Homo sapiens: one gene and its partners. The protein of the gene in region 1 interacts with the protein of each later gene in a pairwise test. Each region holds a gene or a part of one and is shown in the gene's direction. Other genes may lie near its edges.

Region 1 (5,198 bases):
GGCAGGAAAATCACTTGAACCCAGGAGGTGGAGGTTGCAGTGAGCTGAGATTGTGCCATTGCACTCCAGCCTGGGAGACGGATTGAGACCCTGTCTCAAAAAAAAAAAAAAAAAAAAGAATTCAGCCAGGCACAGCTGCTCATCTCTGTAATGCTGGTTGCTTGGGAGGTTGAGATGGGAAGGTCCTTTGAAGCCAGGAGTTTGAGACTAGCCTTGGCAACATAGCAAGACCCTGTGTCTACTAAAAAAAAAAAAAATTTTTTTTTTGATTAGCTGGGTGTGGTGGGATGATTGCTTGAGCCCAGGAGTTTGAGGTTAACAGTGAGCTGTGGTTGTGCCACCACACTCTAACCTGGGTTGATAGAGTGAGACCCGTCTGTTTAAAAAAAAAAAAAAAAAAGAAAAAAATTAATGTATATAAATTCAAGACCATTATCAAAAATCAAATGCAAGTGAGTTGGATTATCTAAGCTCTAAGCATGTAAAAAACTTAAGATTACAGCAGGTTACTTACTATATGCATTGAACTACTGAATTCAAATTTCCCAGTTTTTCATTTTAAGATTTAATGATTTTCTTTACTAATAATAACCTATATGCTATGATTTGTAACTTGCATTTTACAAAGCAAGTTAAATGTGGAACTTGTGCGTTTGTTTACCTTAGGATTAGGCTTTACTGGCATCACAGCATTTTTCAGTAATTACTAGATTTCTTAGCATCTTGGATTTCATTGAAAAATGCTCGTTCAGAAGTAATGTATGAAAGGACTTGCAGATACAATATAAAAAGTGAGAAATCAGGGATTGTGAAGGTTTTTATTCCCAAAAACCTTGCTAGTTAAAATAAGACTTGCTGTAACATAGCGTGTATAGTTTAGAGTTAGAGATTTTATCCATTAGGATTTATTAAAGGAAATAATGTCTATTGTAAATTTAAGATAGGTTATGTGAGAGTATAATTAAAATATTTTTTTGTGAAATGAGTTATTTTTATATAGTCTGTGATCTGTCTGAAAACATACAATCTTGTTTAAAGTAACCAAAAGCAAAAACCTTAAGGTACAATCGTTAGGGTTTGTTTTTTGGTTTTTTTTTTTCTGGAGACAGAGTTGCCCAGGCTGGAGTGCAGTGGTGTGATCCTGGCTCGCTGTAACCTCTGCCTCCTGAGTTCAAGCGATCCTTCTGCCTTAATGTCCCAAGTAGCTGGGATTACAAACATACGCCATCATGCCCGGCTAATTTTTGTATTTTTAGTAGAAATAGGGTTTCACCAAGTTGGCCAGGCTGGTCTCAATCTCCTGCTCTCAAGTGATCCACCTGCCTCGGCCTCCCAAAGTGCTAGGATTACAGGCGTGAGTCACCGCGCCTGGCCCATAGTGAAGTTTTTATTTTGTCATTTAGCTATATCTTTGGAAAAATTTGGAAATGTATTTTCATCTCCCTAACTTTCAAATAAAAGTTACTATTAACATTTTGAAGGAATTAGTAGGGATTATTTGGTGATAATGTCTTTTTTTAATATAATTTAGTAACGTTTGAGTCTTTCACATTGAATAATAGACTGGCAGTTGAGCAACATGGTCTTACCGTTGTTTAGATGACTTTGAAATATGCTTTGAGTTAGTAATGTTACAAATTACTAACATTAGAAATGTTGTATAGAAAGTAAGTATACAAATTAACAGTCGCTTTTGATACTCATGTTAACTTTGGAAGACAACAGATAGTATCCTTATTTCCAGTTTTACAAATGAGGGAAAATTTAATAAAATTGAACAGAGAGCAACAGCTCAGTCTAGAAACTAGTTCTCTAACTTCGGTAACTTGTATGCTGTCAGAGATTAAACACTTGGGTATTGAAAGCTTATTTGGTGGTGGTTACTATGGCATGAATTAGTTTGAAGGCATTTTTGCTTTTATCCTGCTAATATCTTCACCCTTCTTCCCTCAGTGGTTACAACTTGCCAAATTATAGTACCTTGATAAGATGTATTTGTGTAGTTCTAGGCGCAGTTATCACATCAGTGTTTTATTTTCAAAAATAAGTTTTGACATGGAAGCATGACACAGATTTCACTAGGAAAAGTCCATTTTCTCTTAATCCCTCATATTTAAAGACTTGTTTACGAAGTGGAAACATTGCATAGAATATAATACACTAACGTTTGGATTTTAATAATACGTTTGACTGATGTTAAGTATTTTTTGTCTAGTAAAAATAGTGACACATGACCTTTTTTCATTGATTTATGCTTTGTGATAATACTATGCAGAAATGTTTGCATTGGATTTCCATTGGTCAATTTAGAAAACACAGGAAACATACTCTGTTTCAAGAGAAGTGGAATAAGATTGAAGGAGTAGCAGTCTTAATGTTTCAACTCTTCATTGTTTTTTTTTTAATTTTAGAAAACAGTGTCTGTGATGTAAGCATCTGTGCATGTAAATTGTTAAATTTGAACACTAGTACCAAGTCATTTGTCTTACGCTTCTCATAATCACATTTTAACTTTTTATATTTTTAGAGAGATGGTTATTATGTATTGTTTATAATTTAATGGTATTTCTATTTTACAATCAGTATTTTGGAATGAGTTCACTTAGATCCTTAGATCCTTAAGACAGTCTTAATTGAACTGTTTTCTAGTTGTGCAGGAAGTATTTAAAATTTTTGGTGTAACATACTTGGGGTTTTGGTCTGTAATTCACAGAAAATTTATATATTCTAATTTGTGTCTATTAAGCATCTGTTACCTTATTCTGTTGTGCAGAATTGTTTGGGGGGTAGTGCATCATTTTGTTATGATGCTGGAAAGAGTGAAGATGGAAATAAGCTGGGCATTTGGGATGCTATACCAGGCACTAGATATAACTCATTGTCAATTTGATAATTACAAAACCAATTTTTGTGGGGTTGTGTGTGTGTGTGTTTTGTTTTTTTTTTTTTTTTTTTTTTTTTTAAGACAGTCTCACTCTGTACCTAGGCTGGAGTGCAGTGGCACGATCTCGATCTCACCTCATTGCAACCTCCACCCCCTGGCAAAATCAGTTATTTGGTTATTTGGGGCTTGCAAATATATTCTATGAACAGTCCTTTTCAGGATTTGTATGATGCTTTATAATTTTCAAAGGGTTTCTATATTGTTTCTCATCTGACTCCACAGTAGCTCTTTGAAATAGGCTGATCAGTATTATTCCTGTTGTACTGATGAAATTATAAAGTATTTAGCCTACTGTTGTTGAAACTGGAAAGGAAGTCTCTTCACATAAAATTTTATCTCTGCCTTCAAATTATACTCCAAGTATAACTAATTCTCACTATTTTATCATTTTAGTTCTGGCTACCACCTTTTCTTAGCTTGAATTCTGCAAGAGCCCCCTAGTGTTCCCGAGTCCATTTTGCTTTGTATGATTGTTTCCCCACACAGTAGCCAGAGTGATCCAGTTAAAATGCCAGTCACCTCACATCTCTCTCAAGCTCACGGCCCTCCAGTGACTCCCTGTTTCTTAGCAAATCTTATAATAGATCCTGTGTAATCTGGTGTCTGGGTATTTTTTCAGCCTCTTCTACTATCTTCCCCTTGTTTGTGCTACTCTCTCCATACTGGCCCTGCAGGCAGAAGTTTGTTCCTGTCTCAGGGGCTCTGCACATTATGTGCCTTTATGTTTCTCCTACTGTGCTCACTCACTTCAGTAATGTGTCTGCTTAAGTGTCACCCTCTCACAGGGCCTTCTCTGCCCTTGCTGAACACTCTGAAACAGTCATTCTCATCATTGTCTTTCCTTGCCCCTGCGTGTTCCTTCCTTGTATGAAGGTGACCTGTTATGATTTACTTATAGTCATTCTGCTATAACATGACATGGGCATTTCTGAAAGTCACGGTGCTGTGCAACATTGCACCAGACCAATTTATGGGGAAAATGGAGTTAGGAGCACAGTAACCAAAAACATTGTCAGTGACACATTTTAAAAAGATAGGAACCTAATAAAAATTGTAACTTAGTTTTACACGTATAAAATGGTTAAAGAATAACACCGCAATAAATGGCACTTTACCTTGACCAAAACCTGACTTCTTGTGAAAGTGGCCACTCATTGGAAGGGTTGCAGTTCATGAATTACTGTAAAGTGATGGATGGAAGATACCTGATACGAGACAAAAACTTGTAACATCAAATGTGGATGGACCTGACTCATAATTCATGATGAACTAAGATAGCTATTAGATGTTTGAGCTGTGTCTGCCTTGTAAATTCCTGTGCAGCTTGATGTAGCTAGTGTTTCTCACAGGTGAAAATACACATAAGTGGGAAATTTGCTGGTTTCTGATAGATCAGTAGCCTTCAAACAAATTTGTCTATTTGGAAACAAATGTTATAGCAGAACTGACTGTATTTTAGTTTTTGTTTGCTTGCCTTTTGTGGAATATAAGCTCCACCAGAAGAGGAAGTGAGAGTTTTAATGTTTTTATCCACCTTGTATTCCTGTTACCTTGAATAGTGCCTGAAACTTTATAGCATTTAACTAAATGGATAGATAAAAAAAATTTGGATTGTTATAATTTAAGGGGAATGAAATTATAGTATTTTGGATTAGCATTCCTCAAACTTGAATGTGTATACTAAGCACCTGGAGATACTATAGTCAGTAATTCTGGGGTGGGTCCCAAAGATCTGCCTTTTAACAAGATCTCGGGTGATACCTACACTTCACTAGAGTAACAAGGTTCTATAGCAGCACCGTCCAGTGGAAATATGTTGGCCACAAATGCAAACCATATGTGTACTTTTCTAGTAGCTTTGCTTAAAAACTAAAAATGATTCAATTTTAGTATATTTTATTTGACCTAATATATCAAAAATATTTCAACTTGTAATTGATACCTTAAAAACTATAATGACATACTTTACATTCCCTTTTTGGTACAAGATCTTTGAAACCTAGTGTCTATTTAACATTTACAGCACATTTCAGTTTGGACAAGCCACATTTCATGTGTTTAATTGCCACATGTGAATGATGGTTATTGAATTGGACAATGCGGTTCTGAGGAATGTGATCGCCCTGTTGGCCTGTCTGGCTTTTACATATATTTTTATTTCTCTAAGGAAAGTATTTTGTATGCTTGACTTCTGAAATGCCATATTTATGCAAAGCAAGATTGGAGTTAATGGGTCCTTGAGCTATATAGTGCT
Region 2 (5,198 bases), about 52 Mb from region 1:
GAAGATATTGGTAAGGGAATTGTTGAAGGGATGGGTCATGGAGTACAAGCTGGAGAGAGGAAAGTTCCAGAATGGCTTCTGGACTGATTTAATTTATAGAGAGCTTCTAAGCTAAATTTAAGCCACTTCCATAGTTCTACCAGATAATACTTAACCCCAGAGTCTTGACTCAAATTTACATATTTAAAAAGGGGAAAGAAGCCTATTATTTGAGTATGTGGATAGAAAGAAAAATATAGACCTGGCAAATAGCTTCTCTGACTAACCTCCTATCCCTGATATTGAGGTAGAAAACTGCAGGCCCCTTAGAAGGATAGGGCTGTTGAAAACTCTACTCCTTCTGAGTCTTCATTTTCAGTCATTGGCTTATTCTTGAAGGGAGGTTAAAAAGTGTTGAGTTGGGTGTCAACTGTCATCCAAACAGGCCAGGTGCTTCCTGCAGCAGCCACAACTGTGGATGAGGAGCCATCCTTCCTCTTACAGCTCCTATAGCTGGTATCTGTTCCTGTCTATCAAAAATAAGAGAATTCCCAGAGGTTCTCCTTCCCCTAGGCAATTACATCGTAAGTGGGAGATACATAACTCTCTTCGGCTCGACTACTTTATCCTACTTATGCATAATTTGGCAATACTAGCAATAACAAGTTTCTCTAGCCATATTATGTTGACCGGTATGAACTAATCCACTGTGCATTGAATCCTAAGTATTGTAGTAGGGCGGAAGAGAAAATAATATTATACAGGAGATGTTATGGCCAGTTAGCGGAGTGGATTGGTGTGCAGAAATAGATAGGAGAGATCGATCAACAGAGAAAGGCTTGAGAGAGTGTGGCTGAGATGAAGAAAAACAGAGAGGCCTCTGGGTGCCTTCTGAGTCATGTAAGCTGGAGGTTGGGAACTCTGGTTATTTCCTTGCTGGTTGCAAAAGCAGTTGTCCTCATAGTCAGTACCACTGACTTGAAATTCCTTGATATTTTAGGCACTCTCCACAAGCCTAGTTTTTTGTGAACAGGGAAGTATTTTTATTGCCATTTTCTATGTAAGAGCTTAGTTTTGAAGTAAGAGCTTTTTTGTTTATTTGTTTTGAATGGCTTTCAGTGGTTTTGCTCATGTGTGAGGAAGGGGATTAGGTTTTGGAAGTTTCTTGAAAATGTCAAGAAGCTGGTTGTTTTGATCAATCTGACTGTTATTTAACAAATACACTTTGCATTATTGTTGAGAGATTGGAGTTATTTAACTTCCTCTACCAATGTCTGAAAGTTGATTGAAACTGTTTCTGCGTTTCAGCTACCTACCCCATCACTTTTATCTTAGTAGTGATAATATAGGAATACTAAGAAATTACCTTTAAAAGCTTTTGCAAATAAAATATCAAGCACTTTATTATATCTTTACTTGTAAAAATTTATTATTTTAGAATGCATTGTCAGATAGTAGACATTTTATGCTTTACAGGCCAAGAGGCAAATTTGATGATATTATGAAGGCATTATGGCATATTATGTAGGAATAACAAGAGAGAAAATGAATTTTTGCAAATGTTTTATTGATGAAATTCAAATAATAATCACTGAATATAAATTTTTTATTAGATAGGTTTACTATTGAGAATTTAAAAAAGTTTTTAAAAGATAACATTTCACTTGGTTGAAGTTCAGCGTTAGTGTGGTCTATCATCAAAATCTATTTTAAAATATTTATCTGCGGGCCGGGCGCGGTGGCTCACGCCTGTAATCCCAGCACTTTGGGAGGCCGAGGCGGGCGGATCACAGGGTCAGGAGATCGAGACCATCCTGGCGAACGCGGTGAAACCCCGTCTCTACTAAAAATACAAAAAATTAGCCGGGCGTGGTGGTGGGCTCCTGTAGTCCCAGCTACTCAGGAGACTGAGGGGGAAGAATGGCGCGAACCCAGGAGGCGGAGCTTGCAGTGAGCCGAGATCGCGCCACTGCAGTCCAGCCTGGGCGACAGAGCGAGACTCCGCCTCAAAAAAAAAAAGTTTATCTGCTAATGCTGATCTGTAATGAGGTTTTATGCATTTCATCCTTGAAAATGTCTTTTTACATAGTTACTGTCAAAAGTTGCTATCAGTCTATGTGTGTATAATTTAAATTAAGCATATTCATTCCTTAGAAGGTATTTCTAGAATTTTGTTTTTCTCTTGCTGTTTGCCTTTTAGCATGCATTACTTTGTAGAATAGCCACTTCCAACTGAAGGTTGATGGAAGCTTCTTAATTGCATAGTTAAATGGATTTCAGAATATGGAAATTTCCTTTGCACTTACGTTGAGGCCTTACAAACACTCTGGAATTGTAGTTCGAGGTTGGAAAATACATCCACTGACAATTTGTTTGGGAACGGAGATCTAATATCCTGTTCTAGTTTTGACAGCACTGGACGTGTATAAAGCAGCTTTACGTTACTTGTGATTCAAACAACATGAGCTGTTGTTGAAGTGAGTTTACTGCAGTGTAAGTTTTACATATGAGTGATGTTTTGCCATGTAATTTTAAAATGAATTAAGAAACATTATCAAGTCTGCAGCCAAAGCTAATTTCCAAAGCCATTTAATGTTTGATAATAGTGGTTGGGAGTATTTCTTCTCATTAAGAAAAATTTAAATCCTGTTTACCAATAACTTACTCGAAAAAGAAACCAAGAAAACAATCTTATTTATAATAGCTTCAAAAAGAATAATATACGTAGGAATAAATGTAACCAAGGAGGTGAAACATCTATACCTTGAAAACTGTAAAACACTAATGCAAAAAATTGAGGAAGACACAAATAAATGGAAAGATATCTTGTGTTCATATATCAGAAGAGTTAGTATTGTTAAAATGTCTATACTACCTAAAGTAATCTGCAGATTCATCTCAATCCCTATCAAAATTCCAATGGCATTCTTCACAGAAACAGAAAAACCCAATTCTAAAATTTGTATGGAAGTACAAAAGACCCTGAATAGCCAAAGCAATCCTAAGAAAGAAAAACGAAGTTGGAACTATCAAATTACTTGATCCAGAATTATATTACAAAGCCATAGTAATTACAACAGTATGGTATTGGCATAAAAACAGACACATAGACCAGTGGAACAGAATAGAGAACCCAGGAATAAGCCCAAGTATATACGGTCAACTAATTTTTGACAAGCCCTGCAAGAAAACACAAAGGGAAAAGGATAGTCTCTTCAATGAACGGTGTTGGGACAACTGGATATCCACATGCAAAAGAATGAAACTGGATCCTTGTCTTCCACCATACACAAAAATCAGTTCAAAATAGATTAAAGACCTAAATGGAAGACCTGAAACTGTAAAACTCCCGGAAGAAAACATAATGTAGAAAAAGCTCCTTGACATTGGTCTTGGCAATAATTTTTTGGGTATGACACCAAAAGCACAGGCAATAAAAGCAAACCTAAACAAATGGGACTAGGTCAAACTAAAATGCTCTTGCACAGCAAACAATCAGCAAAACAAAAAGGCAGCCTATGGATTGGGAGAAGATATTTGTGAACCATATATCTGATAAGGTCTGATAAGGAGTTAATCTCCAAAATATATAAGGAATGCAAACTCAATAGCAAAAAAAAAAAAAAAAAAAAAAAAAAAAAGGATCCCAATTAAAAAATGGGCAAAGGACCTAAATAGACATTTCTCCAAGGAAGATATAAAAGTGGCCAACAGGTATATTATCAAAAGTGACAAGTAATGTTCAACACCGCTAGTCATCAGGGAAGTGCAAATCAAAACCACTATGAGATACCACCTCGCCCCTATTAGGATGGCTGCTTTTTTTTTTTCTTTTTCGGACACAGAGTCTCGCTCTTTCACCCAGGCTGGAGTGAAGTGGCGTGATCTTAGCTCACTCCAACCTCTGCTCCCTGGGTTCAAGCGATTCTCCTGCCTCAGCCTCCTGAGTAGCTGGGATTACAGGCACCCGCCACCACACCTGGCTAATTTTTTTTTTGTATTTTTAGTAGAGACGGGGTTTCGCCATGTTGGCCAGGCTGGTCTTGAACTCCTGACCTCAGGTGATCCACCCACCTCGGCCTCCCAAAGTGTTAGGATTACAGGCATGAGCCACCGTGACCAGCCTAAGATGGCTGTTATCAGAAAGGGAAGAGACATGGCCGGGGGCAGTGGCTCACACCTGTAATCCCAGCACTTCGGGAGGCTGAGGCGGGCAGATCACAAAGTCAGGAGATTGAGACCATCCTAGCTAACATGGTGAAACCCCGTCTCTACTAAAAATACAAAAAATTAGCCGGGCGTGGTGGCGGGCGCCTGTAGTCCCAGCTACTCAGGAGGCTGAGACAGGAGAATGGTGTGAACCCAGGAGGTAGAGCTTGCAGTGAGCTGAGATCGCGCCACTGCACTCCAGCCTGGGTGACAGAGTGAGACTCCGTCTCAAAAAAGAAAAAAAAAAAAAAAAAAAAAAAAAAAGAAAGGGAAGAGACACACATTGGTGAGGGTGTGGAGAAAAGTGAACTCTTCTACACTGTTGATGGGAATACAAATTGGCGCAGCCATTATGCAAAATGGTATGGGTGTATTTCAAAAAATTAAAAGCTACCATATGACCCAGTAATTCCTCTTCTCAGTATATATTCAAAGGAAATGAAACCAGCACCTTATAGAGACTACTTGCACTCCCATGTCCATTGCAGCATTATTTACAATAGCCAAGATTTGGAAACAACATAAATGTCTGTCAGTGGATGACTGGATAAAGAAATTGTGAGCTGATCACAGTGGCTCACACCTGTAATCCCAGTACTTTGGGAGGCCGAGGCCTGAGGATCACTTGAGGTCCAGAGTTCGAGACCAGCTTGGGCAACATAGGGAGACCTCATCTCTAGAAAAAATGTATAAATTATCCAGGCATGATGATGATGGCATGCACCTGTGGTCCCAGCTACTCAGGAAGCTGAGGTGGGAGGATTAATTGAGCCCTGGAGGTTGAGGCAGTGCCACTGCACTCCCACCTGGGTGACAGAGCAAGACCCTGTCTTGAAAAAACGTAAGATGTATTTCTCATGTATATCTTGTATATATATATCTCACATATATGTATCACATATATGTATATATAAAAGAATATTATTCAGCTTTAAGAAAGAAGTAGGTCCTGCCATTTGTGATGACATGGATGAAACTGAAGGACATGATGTTAAGTGAAATAAACCAGA
Region 3 (5,198 bases), on another chromosome or scaffold:
AAGTAGGGAAACTGGCGAGGGATCCATAGTGAATCTTGGGAGTGTGTGCATCTGGAGGTGCGTTGGGCACATTGTGGGGAGTTGGCTGCTTGGGAGCCATGTGAGTTCGGGGGACAGCGAGTGTCACGGTCAAGTGCAAGGAGATGGTCTGAATGTGAGTGATTTGGGGAGTGGGAGAGACAGAGTTAGTTTCTGCGTGGGTTGGCTTTTCTTTCTTTTTTTTAAATAATATTATCACTTTTTGACACGGAGTTTTGCTCTTGTCACCCAGGCTGGAGTGTGGTGGCGTGATCTTGGCTCACTGCAACCTCCGCCTCTCAGGTTCAAGCAATTCTCATGCCTCAGCCTCATGAGTAGCTGGGGACTACAGGCGCATACCACCATGCCTGGCTAATTTTGTATTTTTAGTAGAGCCGGGGTTTCACCATGTTGGCCAGGCCAGTCTCAAACTCCTGACCTCAACTGATCCACCCACCTCGGCCTCCCAAAGTGCTGGGATTACAGGCGTGAGCCACCGCGCCCAGGCTTGGTTTTTATTTCTAAGAGAATATACCTGTGTGTTGGGAGTGTATACAGATTGTTTTTGAAAGAATAGTATATGTGTGTGCCTGAGTCAGTGTGTTGTCTTAGGTTGTATTTCTAAAAGGAAAATGTAAATGTTTTTACTGAGTTGTATATTTAATAGGAGAAAGTGAGTGCGTGTTCTAAGAGGAGAATGTATATTATGCTGTCCTTTCTTTCTTTCTTTTTTGACTGGGTCTTACTCTTTCACCCAGGCTGAGTGCAGTGGCACTATCATGGCTCACTGCAGCTTCAACCTCCTGGGTTCAAGCAATCCTTCTACCTCAGCCTCCAGGTACACCATCACCACACCCAGCTAATTTTTTTATTTTTATTTTTGTAGGGATGGGGTCTCACTATGTTTCCCAGGCTGGTCTTGAACTCCTGGGCTCAAGTGATCCTCCTGCCTCAGCCAAAATCCCAAAGTGCTCGGAGTACAGGTGTGAGCCACCGCACCCGGCCTACATTGTGTTTCTAATGAGGGAGTGTGTGTGTGTGTGTGTGTGTGTAACTGTATTTCTGGGAGGGTGTGTGTGTGTACCGTCTTTTTTTTTTTTTTTTTTAAATGAAGTCTCACTCTGTTGCCCAGGCTGGATTGCAGTGGTGCGACCTTGGCTCACTGCAACCTCCGCCTCCCGGGTTCAAGCAATTCTCCTGCCTCAGCCTCCCAAGTAGCTGGGACTACAGGCATGCGCCACCATGCTCTGCTATTTTTTTTTTTTTTTTTCCAGTAGAGACAGGGTTTCACCCTGTTGGCCAGGCTGGTCTTGAACTCTTGGCCTCAAGTGATTTACCCACCTTGGCCTCCCAAAGTGCTGGCATTACAGGCGTGAGCCACTACACCTGGCCCCATGTTGTATTGGAGAGAAGGGAGAGTGCGTGTGTGTGTCAAATTGTATTTCGGAGAGGAAAATGTGTATGTTGCATTGTGTCTTTAAGAAGGGAGGGTGCGGGTGTGTGAGGTGTTTCTGAGGAGTGTGTTTGTGTGTATATGAGGACCCCAGAGGCACCACCAGCTAAGTTTCTGTGACCTTGTCACCCACATACAACCACATGAAGTCCCATAGAGGGGGGCCCCCACCCACTATGAGCTGGGCTTCAGACTCTCAGCTGTCACATGGCCAGTGTGACATACCTGGACCACACCTATCACACGTGTGTCCCGACAGGCCCTGGGCTGGCTAAGCTTGTCCGATGGAGGAGGGCGGAGCCCCTGTTCCCCCAGGGTCCATCTGTTGCCTGGGAGCCAACACATGGCCCCATCCTCATTCCCCCCAACCTAGAGGCCTCCTGGGCTTCTGGGGGCCCTGGCCCCTCGGCCCTCTCCTCCCACCCCACCCACCCCCAGTGGTCTGACTGGTTCCCGACAAAAACACCCTAAGAATGAGCTCACGCAGAGGCTGCCGCCTCCACACGCCCCGCCTCACTCTGCCGGCAGAGGAGGGTGCCTCTGGTCCCAGGTCACACGGCCAACCGGGAGCTCTGGGCCAGGGGATCCAAGGGCCTTGGGGTGGGGAAGGCTGGCCAGGTGAGCTGAGGGCAGATGGGGGACCCCAGGCTAGCTGTTTGCTTTCTCTTGGTTAATTACACATAGGATTTGGGAACTGTCCTCAGGGCAGAACCCTGGGTTGGGAGGACAGACGAAGGTAGACAAGACTGTTCCAGATGAGAGCTGGCTGGGATGGGTGTGGAGACTGGGATGGAGAGGGTGTGGAGGCAGAGGGCTGGCCAGGATGGGTGGAGCAGGGAAGAGCCAGGATGGGGAGAAGTTAGGGGTCCTGATGGCCATTATGGGAATAGAGGCTGGGGGCCAACTGACTGGCCCGGGCAATGATTCCCCAAACCCCTCACCATTGCTCCCCAGGAGCAGCAATGTCTGTGCAGGTAGCGGCTCCTGGAAGTGCAGGGCTGGGCCCAGAGCGCCTGAGCCCTGAGGAGCTGGTGCGGCAGACGCGGCAAGTGGTCCAGGGGCTGGAGGCGCTGCGGGCAGAGCACCATGGCCTGGCTGGGCACCTGGCGGAGGCCCTGGCGGGACAGGGCCCGGCAGCCGGCTTGGAGATGCTGGAGGAAAAGCAGCAGGTGGTGAGCCACTCGCTGGAGGCCATCGAGCTGGGGCTGGGCGAGGCCCAGGTATGAGGGGGCCAGGTGGGGAGCTGGGGGAAGGTCAGCTGAGGGCGGAGGGAGGGCCAGGCATGAGGGGGACAGGTATGTAGGGGACTGGGAGAGGGTTCACTATTGCAGAGGGGCACACTTTGGGAGGCTGAGGTGGGCAGATCACTTGAGGTCAGGAGTTCAAGACCAGCCTGGCCAACATGGGAAAACCCCATCTCTACTAAAAATACAAAAAGTAGCTGGGCATGAGGGCTCCTGTAATCCCGGCTACTCAGGAGGCTGAGGCATGAGAATCGCTTGAACCTGGGAGGCGGAGGTTGCAGTGAGTGGAGATCGTGCCATTCCACTCCAGTCTGGGTGACAGAGAGAGACTGTCCCAAAAAACAACAGAAAAAAGTATGGCAGAGAGGCACATCCGGGGCAGGGGGAGGCCTAGGGGAACCAGGCCTGGGAAGGGGAGGCTCCAGGTCAGAGATGGAGTCCCTTGGCAGCTTTAGGGGGTCCTTGTGTGTGACAGGGACCCCTGAACCAGATGGCATTCTTCAGTAAACTGTGGGTCCTAGGGCAAGTTTGGGGGTAAAATCAGAGGGGCCCCTGGGAGCCTCTGAGGGCACTGGGGCCATGTTGGCAGAGTCTCTGCAGAATCTGGGGGTGTCGTGCATAGTAGTGGGGTGCTACGGCCTGACTCGAGGCCTGGGCTGGGTCAGGGGCCGTCTGGCAGGGCAGGAACCAACCTCGACTTGGGACCCCCACCCCGGGCAGGTGCTGCTGGCCCTGTCGGCACATGTGGGTGCACTGGAGGCAGAGAAGCAGCGGCTGCGCTCGCAGGCCCGGCGGCTGGCCCAGGAGAACGTGTGGCTGCGGGAGGAACTGGAGGAGACGCAGCGGCGGCTTCGGGCCAGCGAGGAGTCCGTGGCCCAGCTGGAGGAGGAGAAGCGCCACCTGGAGTTCCTGGGGCAGCTGCGACAGTACGACCCACCGGCGGAGAGCCAGGTGCCACGGGCAGGGCGAGGCGGGGGGTGCTGGGCCCTTCATAGAGCCCCACAGTCCCCCAGACCCTCCTTAGAATCCCACAGTCCCCAAGATCCTCCTTAGAATCCCACAGTCCCCCAGACCCTCCTTAGAATGCCACAGTCCCCCAACCCTCCACAGAGCCCCCAGACCCACCAGAACTTCCACAGACGCCCCCACTAGCTACTCCACGAAGCCCCCGAGCCTCGCCAGACCCCCAGGGGGCCTCTGACGCTCGTGACCACCACCTCCCTCAAACCTTGAGATAGGCTGGGTGCGGTGGCTCACGCCTGTAATCCCAACACTTTGGGAGGCCGAGGCGAGCAGATCACCTGAGGTCCGGATTTCAAGACCAGCATGACCAACATGGAGAAACCCCGTCTCTACTAAAAATACAAAATTAGCCGGGTGTGGTGGCACATGCCTGTAATCCCAGCTACTCCGGAAGCTGAGGCAGGAGAATGGCTTGAACCCAGGAGGTGGAGGTTGCTGTGAGCCAAGATCGCACCATTGCACTCCAGCCTGTGCAACAAGCGAAACTCCGTCTCAAAAAAAAAAAAAAAACAAAAAAACAAAAACCTGAGATAGAGCCAGGGCCCCGGTCTCTGAAACAAGCCCCCACCACCCCGGCCCCCCACTTTCCTGTCTCTGCAGCAGTCTGAGTCCCCGCCTCGCCGAGACAGCCTGGCCTCCCTGTTCCCCAGCGAGGAGGAGGAGAGGAAAGGTGGGTGTTGGGAGTACATGCCACAGAGGATGGCAGGCCAGGGTGGGGAGGGGGCTCTGAGCTGCAGGACCCCAAAATCTCTGAGCCAGGGGATGGGGAGGTGAGGGCAGGGTGAGGAGGACCCTGAATGTGACAGTGCAGGTGAGGCTGGGAGCCACAAAGACAGGGTAGCCGCTATGAGCCTGGCAGGCCCCGTATTCACATCCCACAGGGCAGGTGGGCTGCCGTGTTCCTGTCCCGAGGCCAGGATGCATCCCACCAGCTGGTTAGATGCTAGTGACTCCTATCTCAGAAGTTAGCGTGGGGGCCCATAGTCCCAGGGGCCAGTTAGGCAGTCCGGCAGTTCTGAGGCACGTGTCCCCTCATGCGAGGCTGGAGGGGCAGGAGGCTTGCAGTGACCCAGAGCCCACCCCACCCCACCTAGGTCCTGAGGCCGCAGGAGCAGCAGCTGCTCAGCAGGGTGGCTATGAGATCCCTGCCCGCCTTCGGACCCTGCATAACCTCGTGATCCAGTACGCGGGGCAGGGCCGCTATGAGGTGGCGGTGCCTCTGTGCCGCCAGGCCTTGGAGGACCTGGAGCGCAGCTCGGGCCACTGCCACCCTGACGTGGCCACCATGCTCAACATCCTGGCGCTGGTGTACCGGTGAGCACTGCGGCCAGCCATGGCTGGGGGCAGGAACGGCAGGGACCCATTGGGTGCAAGTGGAAGGATCCTGGTGCCCCCTCTGTCACCATGGAGCACCTAGGGAGGTCAGGGGAGGGGACAGCAAGAATGGGAAAGGAAGGGAA
Region 4 (5,198 bases), on another chromosome or scaffold:
TCCACCCAACTTCCTCTTTACTGATATCTTCACATGCTTATTGCCTTATTCATTTTCTAAAGTGTGCCAGCGTCTTTCAGAAGTCAGCTAAATTAGTGCAGTTGCTCATCCATCAGACAGTTTTGTTATAAAATATGTGGCTATAAAAGATTGAATAAATTTATTAGGTTGTAATTTCATTAATGTGTATTTTATATTTAAATATTATTTTAAAAAATGTACAGTGGTTATCTGATCTTGGCCCAGGCCTCTTCAATTTCCAGTGTACCTGATGTCTCTTTATCAACTGTTTTTCTGAGGTGTATCTCAGCCTGGCCTTGGGTACTCCCCTAGGTAAGAGTCATAATTCAGGTTAAAAGAGGTAAGAAAAAAAAAAGCTTTTGGCTTTTGTAATCTTGTTTTTTTTTTTTTCTTTCACATTAGCAAAAGACTGTTGAAGTAGAGAGCATTTTGCCCAGCTCACTCGGATTCTTTGCTGGCATGCCTTCAGTTTCAGTTGTCATCCAGAGAAGTCAAAGGAAATGCTGCTTGGGGATGAGCATGTAATTACGATTAACTTTCCCTACTTCGTTGTCTCTTTGTGGTAAAAGACTGTCACAAGTGCTATTCAAACTATAGGTATTTTTTTTTAGATTTCTAAAAAGTATATTTTGTCTCTGAGGGCCTCCTGTCTTTGGACTAGTTTGTCTTTTTCCAGACCCCAGAAAGGCTGGGCCACCTTTTCTTCTTTGAGCAGGTTGGCAACAGTGGTCACAAATAGCAGAGGAGCTGAGATTCTAGAGAGCTATCCTACCACTGCTTCTCAGATGCCAGTGTGGAAACAGCCTCTTCTTTTTTGTTGAATTAGCTTGGAACAGCTCTCTAATCTCTGAAGAGTGAGGAAAAACTGTGTTTTTAAGTTTCAAGGCTAAGGCACTGTGTTCTCTTTTCTCCCTGTTCCTGCTGCTGTTCTCCCCCAACTCACATGAACGCATACTTAACTTTCAGTGTATGTGGACAGTAGGGTTGCTAAATTCATGTCAATATTTGTGGCATTCCTACATGTTAGGCATTTGGTTTACATTTAACTTATGAAACAAATGTTTAGGCTTTTATAAGCCAGGAACTTTTCCAGATATTGGCAATAATGAACTTTTCAGAAGTTACAGTCTAATAGACAGGCAAACTATTCCCATAGCATGCTATAGTAGCAACATGTAAAATGTGCTGTGGAACCACAGACTATTAAAAGCCTAAGTTTTGGGAAATCAAGAAAGCCTTAGGGATGTTTAGTGATGAATGCATAGGTTAGTGGAGGAAACAACTTGTATCAACTCAATTTGAGAAGCTTAGCTGTGAATAAGAGGAGAGAGAAATAGATTTTAGTAGGGAGAAGTTGGGTCAGGAAGAGTGTGTGTGTGTGTGTGTGTGTGTGTGTGTGTGTGTGTGTGTATTTAAAAATCCAGTCAATGGAAAAAGGTTGAAGATGCAGGCAACGTCCTTGTTTTGTCCTTGGCAAGTTCCTCTTATGGTTGCAAGATGGCTGCCACAAGTTCAAGTGTCACAAGAAAATATGACTTAAGTTTCCTGGAAGAAGACACACTTTTTTTTTTTTTTTCCTAGGTTGTTGCTATCAGTGAGAAAAATTTTTCCCTAAAGCCTCATAGCAGATGCTACCTTGTCCCTCTCTCCTCTCTTCATAGGTCAGCATTGCACACAAGCCAGTGCCTAAATGAGTCAAGGTCAAGGGGAATAGTACCGCTGTGATTGGCATAAATGGATCGTGATTCATCTTAGGTTGTGGCTGGGGTCTACTTCCTTGGAAGTTGATGGCCTCGGGTTGAGAGTAGATACGTGAGCACAGTCAGGGTTTGGTTAGAAAGTGAGGGGGTGAATGGTGTTGTGCAGTTAACAGTGACATCCTTGTCTACTAGTTCTGCCACCACTACACTTAGATACAAACTTCGGAGGAGAAAAAGAAAATGTGCTTGCCTTTGGATTTGGAATTTTAGGTGACTTTTTTTCCTCTTATATGCCATTTCCTTCTATGATCAAGTAGCACTTTTACAATCAAATCAAATCAATGGTTTATTTAAAAATTATTTAAAAATTGAAAATGCCAATTTTGTCAATAAATATATATAGAAGAAATAATTTTTTTTTTCAATGCTTTAAACATTTCAAAAGTTCCCTGCCATTGTCTTATTCCTTTCAGGGAGAGGAGAACATATAATTATATCTTGTAGTTTCTGATTATGTGTATACTAAGAGGACTACTCTGTCCCTCAGTCCATAGTGCACACCCACCTGTGGTCTCTATGGCTTGCACTGAGTGCTGAGGCCAGCCTGGCTCAGATAGAATTGTTAGTTCATTGGCTAGATGGGTCAGGATTCTTTAGAATGCAAATTCTTGAATCAGGAGTACAAACAGGAACATCTTCCCTTTTCTACACACTCATTCCCCTCCTCGAAGGGAAAGCTGTCCCGTAGTTAGCTTATTCGTCATTCTTTTCAGACTTTAAAATTAATGCCACCTTAAGTTTATACAGTATTCTTGTAGTACTCCTAACTTTTCTGTTTTGCTGTATGTGTACATTGTAGAAAGATTAAATCAAGCTAATTAACATGTCCATTACCTCACTTACCTTTGTGTGTGTGTGTGTGTGTGGTGAGAACCTTTAAATCTACTCTCTTAGCAATTTTGAAATACAGTAGGATCCCCACCCACTGTTTTACTTTCAGCAGTTTGTTACCTGTGGTCAGATGAAGTCCAAAAATATTAAATACAATAGATATTTTGAGAAAGAGACAAACATCACATTCACATAACTTTTATTACAGTATATGGTTATAATTGTTGTATTTTATTATTGTTAATCTCTTACTGTGCTTGATGAAAAAGCATAGTATATATATAGGGTTTGTTACTATCTGCAGTTTCAGGTATCCACTGGGGTTCTTGGAATGTATCCCCTGTAGATAAGGGGGACACCTGTGTATGTTGTTACAAGTATGATCACTGTGTAAAAGCACTTTTGTATTTCATTCTTGTTCCTTCTCAATCGCAGGTCTGGGTGCTTTCTGTGCTGTGAAAGGCAGACAAATAATGTAAATCCTAAACACTTGAGTGTTGTAAATTTACAAAATGAGAATTGCTCAATGGTTGTTTCTTTTTGAGAGTAACAAATAGACTGTGATAAATGGCCAGAGTAGGCTTCTGAACTGGTATTAGTTTTTTGGATAGAATTTAGAAAGACTTGTACTACCAATATAATTTTTGTCTCAGATAAATGCAATAGTATTTCCCTACTCAGTAGTTCCTCAGATGCTATTTAAACTGAGCTATATTTCAGCTTTATTTATAGGCTGCAAATTGTTCCTTATTTGGCTGAATCTTGTGGTTATGATATAATGAAAAGTAGTTACTGAGATCACTGGTGCAAATCTGTAGCTTGGAAATCCTCATTTTAGAAATGATTATTTTGACTCCCAAGTTAAATAGTAAAAAATAGACTTATGTTTTTAGTTTTAGCTATGTATATTGAGAAACTGTGGCCCTACGGTGGCTGTTAGGGATTAGTGGATTAGGTTGTTTTTAAATAAGACATTTCAGTTTAGTATCTCTACTTGAATAAAACAGTTTCAAATTTGTGATTCATATGATATACTGATTGCCCTACGGTAACTTCTGTTTTATTTAATTAAAATTGTTAACATTCTTTTTTATACTCTTAAGCACCTCCCTCCACCCTCACCCCCCTTTTTGACTCAAATTTTATTGTGAGTTGGTGTATAGTTAGGAATTTGAAGAGCACTTTTTTTGTTTATTTTATCTTTTCGGTTACTATGCATACTATGTGTGTCAACTCTTAAACCTGCAGGGGGTCATTTTGGCCATCAACTAGTTTTAGGGCTTTCGCCTCCTAAAGAATATGAATTATGGTTGTAATTTTTACAGTTTAAAAAACAAGATGGCATATGAAGAATCTTTATTTCATTATGAAAATAGAACATGGATGCTTAATCCTCTGTATTGAAAGTAACTTGTAGTGAAATACTTCCTAGTGTTCTCTTCTTCTAGTTGTCCATATGTAGTATGTATAACTATAGACCTTGATGATTTAAGTTGAGCACAGTTTAGTGTCAGGTTCCTTTCAGTGATGCATGAGATTGGTTATATGATCTAGTGAGTGTTATTTAGAAATTAATTCACCAGACCCGGGTGTGGTGGCTCATGCCTGTAATCCCAGCACTATGGGAGGGCGAGGCAGGCAGATCACCTGAGGTCAGGAGTTCGAGACCAGCCTGGCCAACATGGTGAAACCCTGTCTCTACTAAAAATATGAAAATTATCTGGGCGTGGTGATGCTCGCCTGCAATCCCAGCTACTTGGGAGGCTGAGGCATGAGAATTGCTTGAACCTGGGGGACAGGTGTTACAGTGAGCCAAGATTGTGCCACTGCACTCCAGCCTGGGTGACAGAGTGAGACTCTGTCTCAAAAAAAAAAAAAAAAGAAAGATTCACCAAATATTGATTAATAAGGGGAAATTTGTTGTTCCACAAATGCCCATTTAATCTGTTTGTGTAATAGTGTTCCTTCTCATCACACACAGGATACTTGGGGTATTTCTTGAACTCCTTGTTCTTCCATCCCTCCTCAGTTTTACCTATTCTTCCCCCACATACCACTTGAGTCATGTAACATGAATTGAAATGTAATATTTGGACCTGGGAGCAGAGACTTTTTCAGTCTTTAAATTATTGCCCTTCTCAAGCCTTTAGTTTCCTTATCTGTAACAGAAGCGGGTCATCCTGGATGAATGTGCTTTTTTAATTGGAAATTCTTTAGGTCTGTGAAATTAGCCATTATTTTGGGCAGACTTGTGCAATTTTAATATTTTCATTTTATCTTGAGATCCTTATTAAGCTTAACTGAATTTTTATTATAGGAAGTGTTAAGCCAGGTAATTTACAGAAGATCACATGGTTGATGATATCAGTAGAGCGTTAATCTGATTATCCACAGCTGCTGGTAGCCTTAAAATAACCTAAAACTTGATTTCCTGTTGTCCCTAATAATTCTGTGTGTTTAACACTTCATATTTTTCAGAGGGCTTCGTGAGACAGATAGGGTGGGAGCTACCTACTTAGGCTATCTATTCAGTTTCACACATGCACATTTGCCCTTGTTCACATGGCTAGACTTGACTTGATGGGT

The links. Proteins that work in one complex are often made in the same cells at the same time.
Region 2: the proteins of WAC (region 1) and DYDC1 interact in binary tests that used the Homo sapiens proteins (3 or more experiments, as listed by UniProt).
Region 3: the proteins of WAC (region 1) and KLC3 interact in binary tests that used the Homo sapiens proteins (3 or more experiments, as listed by UniProt).
Region 4: the proteins of WAC (region 1) and BACH1 interact in a two-hybrid assay, tested with the Homo sapiens proteins (one large-scale study listed by BioGRID and IntAct).

What each region holds. Positions count from the first base shown.
Region 1 is NC_000010.11:28,538,485-28,543,682, forward strand, and holds part of WAC (WW domain-containing adapter protein with coiled-coil), read left to right. Parts: intron 1-5,198.
Region 2 is NC_000010.11:80,345,699-80,350,896, reverse strand, and holds part of DYDC1 (DPY30 domain-containing protein 1), read left to right. Parts: intron 1-5,198. UniProt on the Homo sapiens protein: Functions as part of axonemal radial spoke complexes that play an important part in the motility of sperm and cilia. Plays a crucial role during acrosome biogenesis.
Region 3 is NC_000019.10:45,343,109-45,348,306, forward strand, and holds part of KLC3 (kinesin light chain 3), read left to right. Parts: intron 1-2,425; 5' UTR 2,426-2,433; coding exon 2,434-2,691; intron 2,692-3,435; coding exon 3,436-3,666; intron 3,667-4,338; coding exon 4,339-4,408; intron 4,409-4,832; coding exon 4,833-5,052; intron 5,053-5,198. UniProt on the Homo sapiens protein: Kinesin is a microtubule-associated force-producing protein that may play a role in organelle transport. Plays a role during spermiogenesis in the development of the sperm tail midpiece and in the normal function of spermatozoa.
Region 4 is NC_000021.9:29,304,781-29,309,978, forward strand, and holds part of BACH1 (transcription regulator protein BACH1), read left to right. Parts: intron 1-423; exon of another isoform or gene 424-542; intron 543-5,198. UniProt on the Homo sapiens protein: Transcriptional regulator that acts as a repressor or activator, depending on the context. Binds to NF-E2 DNA binding sites. Plays important roles in coordinating transcription activation and repression by MAFK.